Homo sapiens: one gene and its partners. The protein of the gene in region 3 interacts with the protein of the main gene of each other region in a biochemical or structural test. Each region holds a gene or a part of one and is shown on either strand. Other genes may lie near its edges.

The links.
Region 1: the proteins of ITGB3 (region 3) and EPS8 form a complex in vitro, tested with the Homo sapiens proteins (one study listed by IntAct).
Region 2: the proteins of ITGB3 (region 3) and GULP1 form a complex in vitro, tested with the Homo sapiens proteins (one study listed by IntAct).
Region 4: of the proteins of ITGB3 (region 3) and PDK1, one has a biochemical effect on the other in vitro, tested with the Homo sapiens proteins (one study listed by BioGRID).
Region 5: the proteins of ITGB3 (region 3) and RABGAP1 form a complex in vitro, tested with the Homo sapiens proteins (one study listed by IntAct).

What each region holds. Positions count from the first base shown.
Region 1 is NC_000012.12:15,782,869-15,786,388, forward strand, and holds part of EPS8 (epidermal growth factor receptor kinase substrate 8), read right to left. Parts: intron 1-3,520. UniProt on the Homo sapiens protein: Signaling adapter that controls various cellular protrusions by regulating actin cytoskeleton dynamics and architecture. Depending on its association with other signal transducers, can regulate different processes.
Region 2 is NC_000002.12:188,588,866-188,592,385, reverse strand, and holds part of GULP1 (PTB domain-containing engulfment adapter protein 1), read right to left. Parts: exon of another isoform or gene 2,647-3,520; coding exon of another isoform or gene 2,636-2,646; intron 1-2,635. UniProt on the Homo sapiens protein: May function as an adapter protein. Required for efficient phagocytosis of apoptotic cells. Modulates cellular glycosphingolipid and cholesterol transport. May play a role in the internalization and endosomal trafficking of various LRP1 ligands, such as PSAP.
Region 3 is NC_000017.11:47,284,827-47,288,346, reverse strand, and holds part of ITGB3 (integrin beta-3 precursor), read right to left. Parts: intron 2,088-3,520; coding exon 1,925-2,087; intron 1,278-1,924; coding exon 1,116-1,277; intron 1-1,115. UniProt on the Homo sapiens protein: Integrin alpha-V/beta-3 (ITGAV:ITGB3) is a receptor for cytotactin, fibronectin, laminin, matrix metalloproteinase-2, osteopontin, osteomodulin, prothrombin, thrombospondin, vitronectin and von Willebrand factor.
Region 4 is NC_000002.12:172,559,080-172,562,599, reverse strand, and holds part of PDK1 ([Pyruvate dehydrogenase (acetyl-transferring)] kinase isozyme 1, mitochondrial isoform 2 precursor), read right to left. Parts: intron 381-3,520; coding exon 309-380; intron 1-308. UniProt on the Homo sapiens protein: Kinase that plays a key role in regulation of glucose and fatty acid metabolism and homeostasis via phosphorylation of the pyruvate dehydrogenase subunits PDHA1 and PDHA2.
Region 5 is NC_000009.12:122,986,000-122,989,519, reverse strand, and holds part of RABGAP1 (rab GTPase-activating protein 1), read right to left. Parts: intron 3,306-3,520; coding exon 3,101-3,305; intron 224-3,100; coding exon 49-223; intron 1-48. UniProt on the Homo sapiens protein: May act as a GTPase-activating protein of RAB6A. May play a role in microtubule nucleation by centrosome. May participate in a RAB6A-mediated pathway involved in the metaphase-anaphase transition.

The DNA of each region.
Region 1 (3,520 bases), on a different chromosome or scaffold from region 3:
GTCCACTGTGTGATGTTAATCATCTCTGCGTGAGCAGTTCATCTCTCCGGTAAATTGTGTATCACAGTAAAAAATGATTTCTTGGTGTTCTCTTGTATTTTTCATCCTGTTTGGTACAATACCATAAACCTTGAATGAAAACGTGCCACTAGAGATGCCAGAAATGCTCCCAAGAAACAGAGAAAAGTCATGACATTATGAGAGATAAAGTTGAATTGCTTGGTATGTACCATAGATTGAGGTCTGCAGCTGCAGTTCCCAGCCCTGCCCCTCCATTCCCCCACCTTTTCAGAAAGAGGAGTCATCTGGTAAGCAAACAAAAACTTACAATATCAATAAGTACAATACAGTACTGGATTTTCTCTCCCTTATGGTTTTCCTAATAAAATTTTCTTTTCTGTAGTTTATTGTAAGAATACAATGTAATATACATATAATATACAAAATGTGTGTTAACAGACTGTGTTATCAGTAAGGCTTCCAGTCAACAGAAGGGTTACTAGTTAAGTTTTTGGGAAGTCAAAAATTATACAAAAATTTCTGACTGTGCAGGGGTCAGTGAGTCTAACCGCTGCACTATTGAAGGGTCAACTGTACTTGAAAAAAGTCACTTGTAGCAGGAAGAATAGCATGGGAAAAGATTCAAGACCACATAGTTAAGTCTCAGATTTCTAGCTGGTGCATACATCAACTGCCTCTTCTCAACATACACCCTGCAAATCCTTTATTCCAGATCCTTTTTGTGAAAAATCAAACTATTATTCCCTATGATAAGATCTAAAAGAACTGACAGATGTTACTCTATACTAACAATTCCATTTTCACAAAGAAGCATCTCTGAGTTAGTAAAAAAAAAAAAAAAAAAAAGAGGAAAATGAATTATGTACAATGTCTAGAAATAAATCTCAGCACACAGTACATGCTGTATTATATATTGGTTTCTAAGTCATTTCTCAACTGTTTACAGTAAGTAATTTTGCAGAACATGTAATAAAAATTTTAATAAAAACATTTTCAATTCTAAGCAATTTATAATCTATTAATTTAAAAATCACATTTACTTGTGCTGGTACAACTAGGAATCCATATGCAAAAAAAAAATTAATCTAGACACAGACCTTATACCTTTCATAAAAATTAACTCTAAATGGATCACATACCTAAATGTAAAATGCAAAACTATAAAACTTCTAGGAAAAACACAGGATAAAATCTATGTAGCCTTGGCAATGAGTTTTCAAATATAACACAAAAGCCTATCCATGAAATTGGTAAGTTGGCCTTATTAAAATTAAAGACATCTGTTCTGACAAAGACACTGTTAGGAAAATAAAAAGACAAACCAAACTGGGAGAAAATATTTGCAAAACACATATCTGATAAAGTGCCTGTATACAAAATGTATAAAGAACTCTTAAAATCAACAATAAGAAAACAACCCCATTAAAAAGTGGGCAAATGATCTGAACAGCCATCACACCACAGAAGATGTACAGATGAAAAGGGGTATGTGAAAAGATGTTAACATCATATGTCATTAGGAAATAGTAAATTAAAGTAACAATGACATATTACTACACACCTACTAGAATGGGTAAAATCCAAAAAAGCTGACAAAATCAAATGCTAGCAAAGATGTGGGGCAATAAGAACTCACATTCATTGCTGGTGAGAATGTAATAGTACAGCCACTTCGGAAAACAGTTTGGCAATTTCTTACAAAGCTAACCATAATCTTACCACAGGATCCAGCAATCGCACTTCTAGATATTTATCCAACGGATATAAGAACTTATGTCTACCCAAAAACCTGCATGTGAATATTCATAGCAGCTTCGTTCATACTTGCCAAAAACTGGAAGCAACCAAAATATCCTTCAATAGGTGAATAAACAAACCATGATATATCTGATAATGATAGAAAGAAATGAGCTATTAAACCTCAGGAAGACATGGATGAACCTTAAATGTGTATTGCTAAATGAAAGAAGCCAGTCTGGCAAGGCTGTATGATTCCAATTATACAACATCTGGAAAAGGCAAAAGTAAAGAGACAGTAAAAAGATACGTGGTTTTCTGGGAGAGGGGCTCACAGAGGTTATGAGTGAAGCCCAGGGGATTTGTAATGTGTTGAAATTATTCGGTATGATACTATGATCCTATAAGGATAGCTACATCAAATTAAGTATTTGTCAAAACCCAAAGAACTTCACAGGACAAAGAGTAAACTTTAATGTATGCAAACGTAAGCAAATCATTTAGAAGGTCAAGGAATCCCAAGGTGGAATGCAGATTGTAACAAAGAAATCTAACTGTATTATAAATGTGTGCTACAATCTCACTGAAAAGGATAGGAGGAAAGGTGCTTAGCTGACTAACTCTAGAAATGAGTAGAAGCTGTGAGACTAAAAGCAAAAGGAATAGTACATAAACACTGTACTCTTGATGCTAAAGTTGTTTCCCATGGGAGCACAGGTTAACAATTCCAATGCTGCTATACATCTATGATAGAAATGAATGATTAAGCAAATGTATGGCAGATGGTGCAAACCAGGTTTCTTCTCACTGTTGGAGTAAGTTTACATATAAACAAAGGGAGAAGGCTAGAATGATACCTGTGGTAATGAATTAGCATTACAGATAAAATGTAAATTCATAGTTAAACATGGATACAAACTGTTACATAAAAATATGTACAGATATGTTCATATACACACATGTATTTCTTGCTTTGTCACATGAGAGAACCTAGAAGCAATGATACCACAGTAGCAACAAGCACACCTAGCACCCAGATCTTGGTTTCTAACACCATTCCCCAACAAAATGATCCAGATTCCTTGGAGAAATGACTGATTCTAGGACTGTGGCAAGATGTATACAGATGAACCTAGAGCATCTCATAATACCAGAAAGTAAGGAAATGCTTCCAAAAAAACAAAATTCACATTGATGGTAGTATGTCAAAGAGGCACTGGAGTCAAGCTGTAACAAAGTAGCATTGTATTATAACCCAAAATATTTAGATAGATAGATAGATTTTATATTTATATAATATATATATATCCATGAGTCCAGAACAAAATAAATATGATTGAGTAAATAAATACATGGGGGAGAAGAGACAAATCTCCCACGGAGAAAAATATCCAAATAATTTATATAGATTTCTACCATCAAAGGGGGAAGCATAACTCTCTACTCCTTAAGTATAGGCTATACACAGTTCCTTCCTTCTAAGAGCACAGCATGAAAAAGGTGGAGAAAAGTGGAAAAATCTGATAAACACTATCTCAGCCAGGTGATAAAGATGAGTATCACAGTGACAAATCATACTGATAGTATATACCCTTGATATGAGATGAAAATGGCACGTTACCTCTGTGATCTTTCTACCAAAAACCTATAATCACAGTCTAATCATGAGAAAAAACATTAGATGAATTCCAATGCAAATGTATTCTACAAAATACCTGACCAGTACTCCTCAAACATCATCAAAAACAAGGAAGTCTAACAA
Region 2 (3,520 bases), on a different chromosome or scaffold from region 3:
TTCTTTAAAATTATTTTATTTGGATATCTGAAGATCTGTATATTATGTCATCTTCTGGTATATTACAAATGGTAAATAGATGATACATTGATAGATAATGACAGATAGAAAGAGAGTTACATGTGGAAATGTTTGATACCATACGGTACTTTTAAATTTTATCAGTTCATTCTGCTAGTAAACCAGTATCACTTCAATTACCCTGAAAATACTATTTGTCAATGTGTTATCAATATTGGAAAAGCAGAATAGCAGCCAAAGTAAAACAGAGGTCAATCACTATTTTAATAATAAAGTGTTAGTATATGACTTACAATAATATCTATCTCCATATTGACTTTTTAAGGATCCTTACATATTATAAGGTTTCTTGATTTTCTTTCTTCCTCAGATAAAATTTCCCACACCTGTTGAGCTTCAAACTTCTTAATAAAAATGAGACTTTATTTACTTATGTAGTGATGGGAATTATCATAAGCTAACGTCACACAAAAGAATGATTAAATAATTAAAGTATTATTCACCATATGCTTTTTATACGAAAGATTTTGATGAATTTTCTTATTTTGAAATAGAAAAGCATATCAAGGAAAGAAAAATCACTACATTTTGAGGTATGTCTTTTTTTCTATCTATACATTTTTAAAAATGATTTTAATGATAATATGAATATATATTTATGCCATATAATTTTCTTATGTAAGTAATATATTACATATAGTTTTCTATCTTCCTCTTTTCATCTTTGCAGACCCTGATTATTTTAAATTCCCACAAAACTAATTTATTATGACTATATAAAATGCTATTAATTTTTATGATTGTTTCCATCGTAAAAATGCATTTTACGTTGATTTGAAAAAAAATCGTTCAGCATTTTAAAATTATGAATAATGTTGACTAGGTATTTTTATTCGCAGAGATTGAACACATTCATACTTATTTTTTCATCAGAATAGATTGCTTTAAAGTTTTGATATCAAACAGAAATAAAAGTATTAATAACAAGCTACCCTTTAAAGAGACTGCTAGGCCATAGTTACCTCTGAACTAACTCTGGACTGCCAACAATTTACAGTGCTTGTTTTATCACACTTTCAGTTGTATTGATTGATTATTAGTTTAAAAAATAATCTGCTAGATTAAAATAGCATTACAGTTCTTTATTTGATTTATATGTTTACTTTGATTAGACAGAACATGTCTACATATGTGTAAGCCACTTGTGGTCTTCTTTTGTGAACTAGTGCTTTTTTATTTATCTGTTGATTCTTTAGTTTCCTAGCCATTTGTCTAATTGCTTTAATTATGTATATGTAATGTATTTATATATTTTTAGACAGTAAATTTTAAAAAATTGGATACTATATGTCCGTATTTTTCTTTTCCTTATAAAATTTTCTTTTCAATTCAAAAGTCTGATGAATATTCAATAATATTTTAAATATTTTAAAATGTTGATTACTTCTGAAATTTATCTCGGCATTTGCTGTAAGTTTCAGCAGTACATTGATCTTCTCCCAGAGTACTAGCTAGCTGACTTAACACCACTCATACATGATTCTTTCATCATTCATGAACTTGCCATGCTTGTTTTTTAATGTATTAAATTATTATAGCTCACATGTTACAGTGTGGGCTATCAATACTATTCCACTTATTTTCCTGTTGGTGACATGTACTGGACAGTTTAAATTATGTCAAATCAAATAGCTACATTATTGATTTCAAATAGATGTTTAATTTTCTAACTGCTTATACTGAAATATGGTCTAACATTTCTGCATAAATGCTTACATGCATGAGATGTTTCTGTGATTTCAAACTTAATAATTCGATTCTCTTAAAAATAGCTTAGTCACAATACTCTGTAAATGAAAGATGAAAACTAAATGTCTCACTAGGCTTATTAACTCAATATGGTGTTCACAACCCATTGTACTATATTAAGTTTTTATATGATATGCAAAGATAGCTAAATGTCTGCATTAGATTCATTAGGCTAGCACGATTAATAATAAAAGCCATCATAGACTTTAGATGAAGAAAATATTATTTTACTTTTGTTAAAGTGACCTTGCAAGTAAATATTGGACTAAAAGAAACAATCATGGCCAAGTATGGTGGCTCATGCCTGTGGTCCAAGCACTTTGGGAGGTCTAAGTGGGTAGATCGCTTGAGCCCAGCAGTTCAAGCCCAGTCTGGACAACATGATGAAACCCTGTTTTTAACAAAAAATACAAAAATTAGCCACGCGTGGTAGTGCACACTTGTAGTCTCAGCTACTCAGGAAGCTGAGGAGGGAAGATTGCTTGAGCCCGGGCGGTGGAGGTTGCAGTGAGCCAAGATCATGCCACTGCACTCCAGCTTGGGTAGGGCGATAGAGTGAGACTCTGCCTCAAAAAAAAAAAGAAAAGAAAGGAAACAATGAAGTGAACAATGCAATAGTGACTAAGTCACTGAAAAATAATCTTAAAATGTGGTTTATAAAACCTCTCTAAACATAACTAATTATCAGATATACCCATATGAAGCTGTTGTTTGAATTTTTATTAAATAAGGCATGCAAATTTTAAGGTTTCAGCTTTAAAAATTTGTAAGTTGTTTAAAATTATTATAAAAATAATATACCAACCATCTCTGGCGCTACCCACCATGAAAGCAGTAAAGAATTTAAAAAGACATTAAGAAAATATTAGAAACAGCAAAAGCAAAAACACCACGGTTTAACATTGAGTGTCACCATCACTCAATCATCCCAATACATTGTGTCTCACACTTGGTTTCAACAAAATCTGGAAATAGAGGCTTATCCTTAAAACTCCATAATTTTTTTTCCAATTTTGGGAAAATCTAAAAAATTTTTAGAGAAGTACTCTGTATGACCTGTGCAACCCTTGAGAATAAATACTACCACATAAATATTTCTTTGTTACTACAAAAGCATTAGTACCAGATAGTACATGTCCAATGGGTAAAACTAATGTAAAAGAAAAGGAATTGATTTCATATGAAATACAGCATTCTTGCTAAATTATCATGCGCCATTTGAAAGTTTCATAGCGTTTGAAATATAGAAAAGAACTAGGAAATCTGTGCCATCAGATAGAATACATGTTGAAATCAATAGAAATTTGATAAGGTGGTTTTAGCTTTAACCAAATAAGATCATCCGTCCTGTATTGGTGTTGCAATTTGGCTTTCATTTAATTTATAATTTATTGAATTCATAATTTTATAAAAACCATAAGGACAAGTTGTTTATAACATTTTTGTCAATATTTAAAAATTGTAAGTTAATACTAAGGATCTAAAACAATTTTTATGTAAAAGGGGATTAAGAATCATTCAACTTGAGAAACACTGTTTTAATAGATTCTTTGAAAACCTCAAGACATATGTTAAGTAATTCAACTTTTAAATTCAGGCATGTTATTACATCTAGAACAATAATGAATTCATGTACTACCTAGAAAATAAGATAGCTACACAGCTGCAGTCAAAAATGAGTAAAAGGGCA
Region 3 (3,520 bases):
CTAAATCATCCTTTAGCCTTCTTTCTTTCAAGCTAAATGACTCTGGCCCTTTAATCTTTCCTCGTAGGACCTGTTCACCATGCCTTTTATGTTCTTTCCCCTCTTTCTCTCTCTCTCTCTCTCTCTCTCTCTCTCTCTCTTTCTAAGAGAAGGGGTCTCCACTAGGAGCAATGGCTCACACCTGTAATCCCAGCACTTTGGGAGGCTTAAGAGGGCAGATTGCTTAAGCCAAGGAGTTTGAGACCAGCCTGGGCAACATAGAAAGACCCTGTTTTCAAAAATTAGCTGGGCATGGTAGTGCATGCCTGTGGTCCCAGCTATTCAGGAGACTGAGGTGGTGAAGCTTGTGAGCCAAGATTGCACTACTGCACTCCAGCTGGGCAACAAAGCAAGACTCTGTATCAAAAAAAAAAAAAAAAAAAAAAAAAAAAAAAAGCAGGGGTGGTTCTTGCTCTGTCACTCAGGCTGGAGTGTAGTGGCAAGATCACAGCTCACTGCAGCCTCAGACTACTGGGCTCAAGAGATCTTTCTGCCTCAGCCCCACAAGTAGCTGGGACCATAGGCACAAACCACAACACTCAACGAATTTTTGCATTTTCTTGTAGAGGCAGGGTCTCACTATATTTCCCAAGCTGGTTTCAAACTCCTGGACTCACGTGATCCTCCCACCTCAGCCTCCCAAAGTGCTGAGATTACAGGCATGAGCCATCATATGCCTGGCCAATCTTTCTCTTTTTTTTCCTCTGTCTTCTTCCAATAACCACAAGTTAGTATGGTATTCCAAGAAAGGGCTAATCAGAGTGGAGAGGAAGACCTGCTTTCCAGCTGGGTTGTAAAAATCCTTTGGGTCCATTCTGGATCCCATGATGCTGCTGCTATGCTGGTGACAGTGAAGGCAGTGATAACACCACAATCAGGGACATCTCTAATGGTTATATAGGTTGTATGCTGGATGACGGTGTCCAGTTGGTAAGGGATAGGGGCAAGCTGGAACCGAGCCCTGCACCCTGCCCAGAAGGAGGGGCTGCCATTTTCATATTCACACAGACTCTGCCTAGATTAGGGCAACCCTCACAATCATGAATAGAAACCATAGGTGGTGCCAGAGATCTCACCATGGTAGTGGAGGCAGAGTAATGATTGTCACTACCAACATGACACTGCCCGTCATTAGGCTGGACAATGCCTGCCAGCCTTCCGTCCAATGCTATATGAGTCTTGGCATCAGTGGTAAACACCAGCAAGTGGGATGCATCATTCCTCCAGCCAATCTTTTCCTGTTAAAAGAAAACAAAAAACAAAGGCAGAGGAGACAAAACAAATTCAGCCATGTCACTGGTAGAGAACAGAGACCCAAGGTGCTCCCTGGCTAAAGGGCTGGACAGCTTATTTTTCTTCAAAACAAGGGTCTCAGTCCCAGTCCTTGGAACCGAAGCTGAAGCTTTCCAGTTCAGGAGTTTCATTCTCTTCAGAAAACAGTCTCATAGCTGATTAGTTCAAGCAGCTGAATGAGATCTTCTTAAACTCCAAACTTAACTCTTCTAATGACAGTCACATTGCTCATCTAGAAACTGACGTGCATCCACAGAGCTGATCTGGGCTAGAAGAAATCTCATCTGAACATCTGCCTACTTTGCTGAGGTTAAGTTAACTCAGCCTTAACTCTGAAGTAACTCTGAAGATGGGAAGATGCTCTCCCCTGGGAACATCTGAGACCACTGAGGTTCAAAGAAATGTCAGCTCAGGCCAGGGAGTGGATCTAAGCCAAGGCTGAATATCAGGAGCAACTTACTACTCATAACTGCAGGAAGCCCTGCTTAGTTCTCATCTCATTTTACACCAGAAATCCCCAGAGTTCAGTCACTTCCTTTCCCATTTTGATCTATGCCAGCCACACCTGGCACTCCAAGTCCTCCAAACTCACATCACAGACTGTAGCCTGCATGATGGCATCAAAGCCACCCTCTGGGGCATCTCGGTTCCGTGACACACTCTGCTTCTTCACTTCCTCATTGAAGCGGGTCACCTGGTCAGTTAGCGTCAGCACGTGTTTGTAGCCAAACATGGGCAAGCAGGTGGTCTTCATACTGGGGAGGGATGGGAGATAATTTAAGCAGACACCTTCATGGAAAAGGCAGCATGGGAATTGGGAGGAAAGAGAGGGGACAAATATAGATAGTGGTATGCCAAGGCCAGTTCCATACAACCACAGTTACCCAGACAGTTCAGACTCCAAAATCCTCAAATTATCTGAAGCTCCCCATCAACATTACCCCCATCCAGCTAACCTAGAAGATAAGAGATTGAGCTGGAAACAAGACTCCCTGAGCTTAGATCCCAGGTGCCCTCTGTACTAGTCATGGGACCTTTGGCAAGCCTCTCAATCCAACCTATGAAAGAGGGGCCAGGATAGCACATATCCCATAAGAGTTGTGAGACTTAAGTAAGTTCATACACACAAAGCACTTAGACCAGAGCGAGGCTCGAGTTGCTATTACTATCACCTTATACTTAACACTTTCCTAAAGTAACAATAAAGCAAAAGTCCATCAGTAAGTTAAGGTCCCTGAACCATCAATAAATTGATAGATCATGCAAGACAGGAGCATTTCTGCCCCCAGTCAAAATAGTGTGTTTAATTAATAGCTGATGTCTTGCCTGGGAACCTTACAACCCAGATAGAAGGTTGAATGCCACATCATATAACTTCAAAACTTTTTCTTTTTTTTTTAGAGACAGTTGTGCTCCATTGTCCAGGTTGGAGTGCAGTGGCACAATCATGGCTCACTGCAGCCTCAACCTCCCAGGCTCAATCAATCCTCCCACCTCAGCCTCCCTGTAGTCCTGGGGACTGCAGGCATGCGCCATCACACATAGCTAATTTTTTTGTAATTTTTGTAGAGATGGGGGTCTCACTATGTTGCCTAGGCTGAACTCAAACTCCTAGGCTCAAGTGATCCTCCCATCTTGGCCTCCCAAAGTGCTGGGATTACAGAAGTGAGTCACCCCACCTGGCCGTAACTTTGAAAACTAAAAAGTAAATTCACACCTTTTCAGGCTCAGCAACCAGCATTGTAAGTTATTCTAATACATGGATTTGCACAGTCTCCACCGATTAAATAAATAAGCCATTCAGTTTTAAGCCAAAGTGTCAAACAGAGGCACAAGTTATCCATTTACAGACTATAAAAGTGTCCAACAAATGTCATTTCCACTCTTTTATATTCCTTAGCACTTCATTTCTTCTGTTTTCACCCTGCAGGATGCACGGCCTTGATGAAGACAATAATGCCAACAATGGAATCGATCCTTCTGTAATCGTAATTTCTCGGTTTCCTTATCCATAAATTTCTTTCTACTTTTGACGTCATTTCCCTCCCATTCTCTCTTGCCTTCTATTTATTTGTTACCAAGACTGAGAAGCTGATGAATTTTCTTTCTAGGTTCTCCAAACAGCCTTAGGCTCCATTGACACAACACTCCAGATCCACAAGCTAGCCCATTTGCCAAACAGGGAGAC
Region 4 (3,520 bases), on a different chromosome or scaffold from region 3:
AGCTGGGGCTGAAGGTGGTTGTCCATTAGAAGGAGCATGCACCCTCCAGGTGAACAGTCCAACTGGCACTGAGGCCACACCTACATTTCCACTGATCATCACACCTGAACTTTGTCTTTTGTTAAAGAGGAACACGAAGCATTTCTTATGCCTAGTCAAATTTGCTGATTGTTATTTGTCCTGCCTGTATGGGCTGCTACAGTCACATATATCACATGTTCTAAAGTAGTAGAAACCTAAAAGTTAACCAATTTCCCCCAAGTGACCTAATAATAGGTTTAAGAATAGGGTCAAAATAGTGAACTTACTCATAAATAGCTTTAGCATCCTCAGCACTTTTGTCCTTAAAATCAAGAAGCTCCTGAAGACTCTGGATATACCTAAAATGCAGATCAATAGGATAAGTTTGTTCTTTTATATTCTGAAAGTTCAATATCATGAAAATTAGCTCAAAAGCTATTTTTAGCATTTTATAATTTTTAATTTAGAATACTGCTATAAATTATGGTTGAAGTATAATTTTTACACCCATGCACATTCAAGCAAAGTGCTGGGAATGAATGGTAGAAGGTGCACATTTTCTCCTAAAAGCAAAGGTCAAATTTAAGAATTTTAAGATTTTCCGAGTTCTACATTCTAAAATGGCTTTTAATTTTTTTTTAATTTACCACTGTACATTACAGTATATATACTGATTATGCTGAGATCTGTCACCAGTAACTATGTGATCTTGGGCAAATGACTTAATTTGTCTTATTATCAGTAAAAGGAGGACAGCCTCTCTTGCTCTAAGACTGTATCTTAAATATCTGTGCTTTAAAACCTTAATTTTACATATTTATGTCCAACTAACAAGTATTTATTGAAAGCCTATAATCTACATGGTTCTTTTAAACTGAACAAAAAACACAAAAGTCATAAAAATGTACATTTTAAATTTATCTAACAATTCGAAGTATCAAAGCATCTGTTAAGGAATGAGCAAAATAGAGAAGGCCAAATGATTTTCTGATGGTCTTGCAGGCAAGTACAATGGCACTGCGGGGCCAGAGCTAAAAATAACTTGCTACCACTGAATTACTTTCTTCGACAGTGTAAGGGATCTGCTCCACTTGGCTGTAAGCACTTTATCTGCAACTGTCCTAACTTAGCAGGCATCTAGGAGCAATGGAAGTGCTTTAAAAACCTGTAATTCCATCTGTTGGTTTGGAAAGCTGTTTCTGACAAGCAATATGTCTTACTGCATTCCAAAGTTAAGGGATTCTGATAGCAGCTGCTGCTTTGCTTTAACCCTTAATTTCCTCTTAATTGGCAAGAACAACTACGCTCTCCATCCAAGAGATATTTGAGTACCTACAACAGGCACCGATCAGACCTCATGACTGATAAGCTTCAAAAAGCAGCATATTCTACTTCTAATGAAGAATTTTTTAAAAACAGGAAAAATCTTCCATGGAATATTATATTTTCTCCATTATATCCCATCATAATTACTAAACAAATGCTTCCCATTTAATCCACACTTATAACTATTCCATACTTGGACTAGATAGCATCTGATTATCATATATATAGCAGTCATATTTTGCTTTTTTAAATTGCGATTAGATCAACTTCTCCCATACGCTATAATGCTTACAAAAAGAAAACTTGAATCTCCATGAATCATAACTGGGAAATGCCCTGCAGCTAAACCTTTTCCATTTAAGACTTAACTCTGGGCAACTCATTTGTTTGAAGCATACAGTGCTTAAAAGAACAACACTTTTAAATCAGTAACATTAATGAAGGCTGTATATAGGTGGCTCCATGAGTGTATACCCTTAACATCTCTACTTATCTTTGGGAAGAGATCACACTTTTTCTACACAATTCCAAAAACTTCTAATTGTTTTAAAACAGAAAAATAAACATTTTAACTTTTGTAATTTATAAAAAGATACCCTTCAATAAACACAGTTTATTAAAAATACATATATCCTTTCATATATTTCATCATTCTGACTATAGCACGGTATAGCAGAGATGGACAAATGGGGGTTTGAATCCCAACTCCACTATCAATGGTACTGTCTTACGCAAAAGATTTAACCTTTATGTGCCTCAGCATCCTCATCTGTACAGAGTTAACCTGCCAGGTGCGGTGGCTCATGTCTGTAATACCAACACTTTGTGAAGCCAAGGTGAGAGGACTGCTTGAGCCCAGGAGTTCACAACCTGCCTGGGCAAAAAAGTGAGACCCCCATCTCTACAAAAAAATAAAAGAATTGGTCAGGTATGGTGGCGCATGGCTGTGGTCCCAGCTGCTCGGGAGGCAGCTGCCTTAGCAGGAGAATCTCTTGACCCCAGGAGGTCAAGACTGCAGTGAGCCATGATCACACTACTGCACTCTAGCCTGGGTGATGGAGACCCTGTCTCTAAAAAGAAAATAAATTAATTTAAAAAATAATAAACAGGCTAGACACAATGGCTCATGCCCATAATCCCTGCACTTTGAGAGGCCCAGGTGGGCAAATACCTTGACCTCCGGAGTTTGAGGCCAGCGTAGGCAACATGGAAAAACCCCATCTCTGCTAAAAAATACAAAAATTAGCTGGGTGTGGCATGCACTTGTGGTCCCAGCTACTCAGGAGGCCGAGGTGGGAGGATCACCTGAGCCAGGGAGGTGGAGGTTGCAGTGAGCTGAGCTGTGATCACCACTGCACTCCAACCTGGGTGACAGAGTAAGAACCTGTCTCAAAAAAATAAGTAGGCCAGGAGTGGTGGCTCATGCCTGTAATCCCAGCACTTTGGGAAGCCAAGGTGGGAGGATCACCTGAGGTCAGGAGCTTGAGACCAGCCTGGCCAACATGGTGAAACCTCTATTTCTACTAAAAATACAAAAATTAGCCAGGCATGGTGGCAGGTGCCTGTAATCCCAGCTACTCTGGAGGCTGAGGCAGGAGAATCACTTGAACCCAGGAGGCAGAGGTTGCAGTGAGCCAAGATCATGCCATTGCACTCCAGCCTGGGCAACAGAGCAAGATTCCATTTCAAAAACAAAAAGTAAATAAAAATAATAACAATGAATAAAATGGAGAGAATCATACCCACTGTGCAAGGTTGTTGAAGGGATTAAAGGCAATATACATAAATACCCAGTCATCAACAAATTGCAGACATTTTTTCTTATAATATCCTTGAAGATATACTAACATAAATCCTAAATTTAGCATCTGTATTTCAGTGCAGTTTTGACTGGCTTTCTCAAAATCAAGAAGTTGTGGAGTCCACGATTCAGGGCACAAGCCCAAATACATTGCCCCCACCTGCCCCCAGCCAAAAAAAGAATACTGCTACTACCTTAAGACTCTGGTCGGGCACGGTGGCTCACGTCTGTAATCCCAGCACTTTGGGAGGCCAAGGTGGGTGGATCACGAGTTCAGGAGACCGAGATCATCCTGGCCAACATGGTGAAACCCTGTCTCTACTAAAAATACAAAAATTAGCTGGGCGTGGTGGCACGTGCCTGTAATCCCAG
Region 5 (3,520 bases), on a different chromosome or scaffold from region 3:
GGCACTGGTGAAGTTTCATTTGCAGAGAGTTTTCTCTTGAGGACTTACAGCTTCTTGTATTTCACACCGGAAGACGTGTATTCTGAAGAGCTCTGCATTGTAATGACTTTCAGTGAAAGCAAAACAGTCACTCTCAGGAGTTCCATCATGCCCTCTGACACAGAAGAGGATTTTGTAGATAGGGTAGTTTGCTATTTCAGTGTTTGTCTGAGGATCTAAGAGTCTGTTCAGAGAAAAAGATACAGAGAGATTACAGGAATTATGAACAATCTGCACTACGTTTAGATTAAGATGTGAGACTCATTCTTTCTAGTAAGAAGATCATATATTTGGTATGCTGATATTAACCTTAAATTTTAATAAGTAACTCATATGTGAATTCCGGAAGCTATTGATTACGTAATTCCATAGTACTAAAAACCATATAGTATCATGTTTTAGGGAGGCAAACAGAAAGGTATAAACAATATCAATAAGCACATTTCTTATACAGTCTGCTACAAAATAAAGACGATTAATACGTAAATTAGACTACCAAAATACATCATTGAAGCTGTGCTTTTTTTTTTTTTTTTTTGAGACAAGTTTCGCTCTTGTTGCCCAGGCTGGAGTGCAATGGCGCAATCTCAGCTCACCGCAACCTCCGCCTCCTGGGTTCAAGTGATTCTCCTGCCTCAGCCTCCCAAGTAGCTGGGATTACAGGGATGTGCCACCATGCCCGGCTAATTTTTTGTATTTTTAGTAGAGACAGGGCAGGTTAGCCAGAATGGTCTCAATCTTCCGACCTCAGGTGATCCGCCCACCTAGGCCTCCCAAAGTGCTGGGATTACAGGCATAAGCCACCACACCTGGGCAAAGCTGTGCTTCTAATTATCTCCTTTAAAAATGACCTAATCTGTTATGAAAAAATAAAAAACAAAAAACTGATGCTTTTTCTCAGACTGAAACAAGTTTTTTTTTGATTCATGGAAAATAAGGACAGAAATTATACAAAATGTTAACTCCTCAAAAAAAAAAAAATCATGAATAAAAGCAAAAGGATGCCATTCAGTAAAAAATCAAAGGGATAGCATTCATTCAAAAATCTACTTATTCAACAAATATTTATGTGATACCTACAACATTCCAGACTCTGATCAGGGCAGTAAGGCACAACTATGGAAGGTCTAAAAAGAAACTATGCAATTTCAACACTATGTGGGTAGAGCCATTAATGGGAAAGCCTAGAAGGCCTTGCTCATCACGGAAATACCTAGGAAGAGGATCTAACACAGGTTTGAAAGCACTTTTATGAAAACTCTAAAAATGTGGGGTAAAACCGACTAGCTTTCTAACTTCTTTTATAGAATTAAAAATATATTAAAGTCTAACTTCAGTTAGAGGAATGAGTATTGACTAAGAAACATATAGAAATGAGTGCTAAACACATTTTATTAATAGTTTATCATTAATAAATAGAATTTGTGAGTCTTTGCAAAATAGTTATTTAAATACTTAAGGGGAAAAATTACATATACAGATTATTTTACTACAATCAACACACAGCTATTACTCTGTCACCATGAAAGTCCAAAATACTTCTGAGGATACTGAGAAATGGATATTCTATATACTGCTGATAAAAGTATAAACTAGATCAATATTTCTAGATGGCTAGTTGGCAATGTTATTAGAAGCAATAAAAATAGACAAACTCAATAAGTTTACTTCTAGGAATTTATCCTAAGGAAATCAACAGAAGTCTAAAAAGATTGAGCTCAAAGATACCTATTTATAAAACACTGATATTCCCATATAATTAAAACTAGCTATCATCATTCATGCTTTTTTCTCTGAAAGATAAAAGCCTTAAAATGTCTAATATAAGAGATGGGTTATTTATTTATAACCCATTCATATGCCATCATAAATTAAAATTTTTAATAATATTTACTGGCATGAAAAGAGGTTTACGATATAAAACTAAGTACAAGATGGTATGTACAGGTCCATTGCTGTTAAAAAAAAAAGTTGATTCTAACAGTTGTAAATTATGTATGTATATATATGCAGGTATATTTACATATACCTAGACATATACATATACCAATATGCAAAGAAGATCTTAATAAGCCAAGATGTTAACTGTATTTATTAGTGGTAGAGTAGAATTAAGGCTATTTTTATGTGGCAATTTTTTTAAATAAGCATGTATCTTTGGTAATAGGGAAAAAAAATTTATTTTACCTGCATTCATCTGACTTATTGAGCAACAGTATATTTAGCTGGTTGATACAGACATCTGATTAGCTATCTGCAATTGTTATTTGTTCTATTAGTATAAACAGCTAGAGGCTTCTCTGTGCCTCAGTTTTCTCATCTTTTTTTTTCATTTTGCTTTGTTGAGACAGGGTCTCACTTTGTCACTCAGTCTGGAGTGAAGTGGCATGATCACAGCTCACTGAAGCCTTGAACTCCCAGGCTCAGGTGATCCTCCCATTTCAGCCTCCTGAGTAGCTGGGACTATAGGTGTGTATGACCATGCGTGGCTAATTTTTGTATGTTTTGTACAGACAGGGTTTCACCATGTTGCCCAGGCTGCCCAGGCTGGTCTCGAACCCCTGAACTTAAGTGATCAACCCGTCTCAGCCTCCCAAAATGCTGGGATTACAGGCATGAACCACTGCACCTAGCCAGTTTTCTCATCATAAAAATTAAGGGGTGTGCTGGTATAGTTAATATTTAATAATAAATTTTTGTAACTTTCAAACTCAACATGAAACTCCATTTTGAAATAATGTGTCAAGCTTGTATTTTCATCAAAGGAACATGGAAAATATAATCTTTTAGGCTGACTCATGTCAATATATTTCATTTATCCCCAAAACATTAAATGCCTAATGTACTACACATGATCGGGAAGAGTACGAAAAACTATTACAAATAAGTAACCATTTTTCACAAAGGTCACAGTCCTTGGGAGACATGAGTGCCAGGTAAATGAAACGTTACACAAGTAAAATAACTATTAATATGTATTTTATTCACTATTGCTTCTTTCTGAAGCAACAGGTCAGAGATCTGATGTAAATATCGAAAGATTTCAACAAACCAGTCTCACCTCACAATTCCTTCAGACACATTCGGCACTGAAAGGGTAACATCTAGTGAAATCTGACACTGGCTTCTTAAGATGGACATCATCCTTAAGGCTTCCACTTCACTCCTGGGAGCATTTACCGAGGCACAGCCTAAGTAAGTCAGTTTACTGAAAACTACGCTGTCCTCATCGGCCACTGGTGTGAAAGGACTTGAAGCTTCAGAATCTGAAAGAAACAATGAATAAGGAAGTGATTACTTTCACTTTGATATTTTGTTGATACGATTAGCAAGTAAAAATCTGCAAGTAACATTTAAGGTCTAAAATTAAGTATTAATGAGACAATATGCCATACCCTAAAAGAAATGCCCATGAAAACCAGAAATCCCACACTAGAACTCTGTCAGAAACACCAAGATTTTTAGGTACAGGTTGAGCATC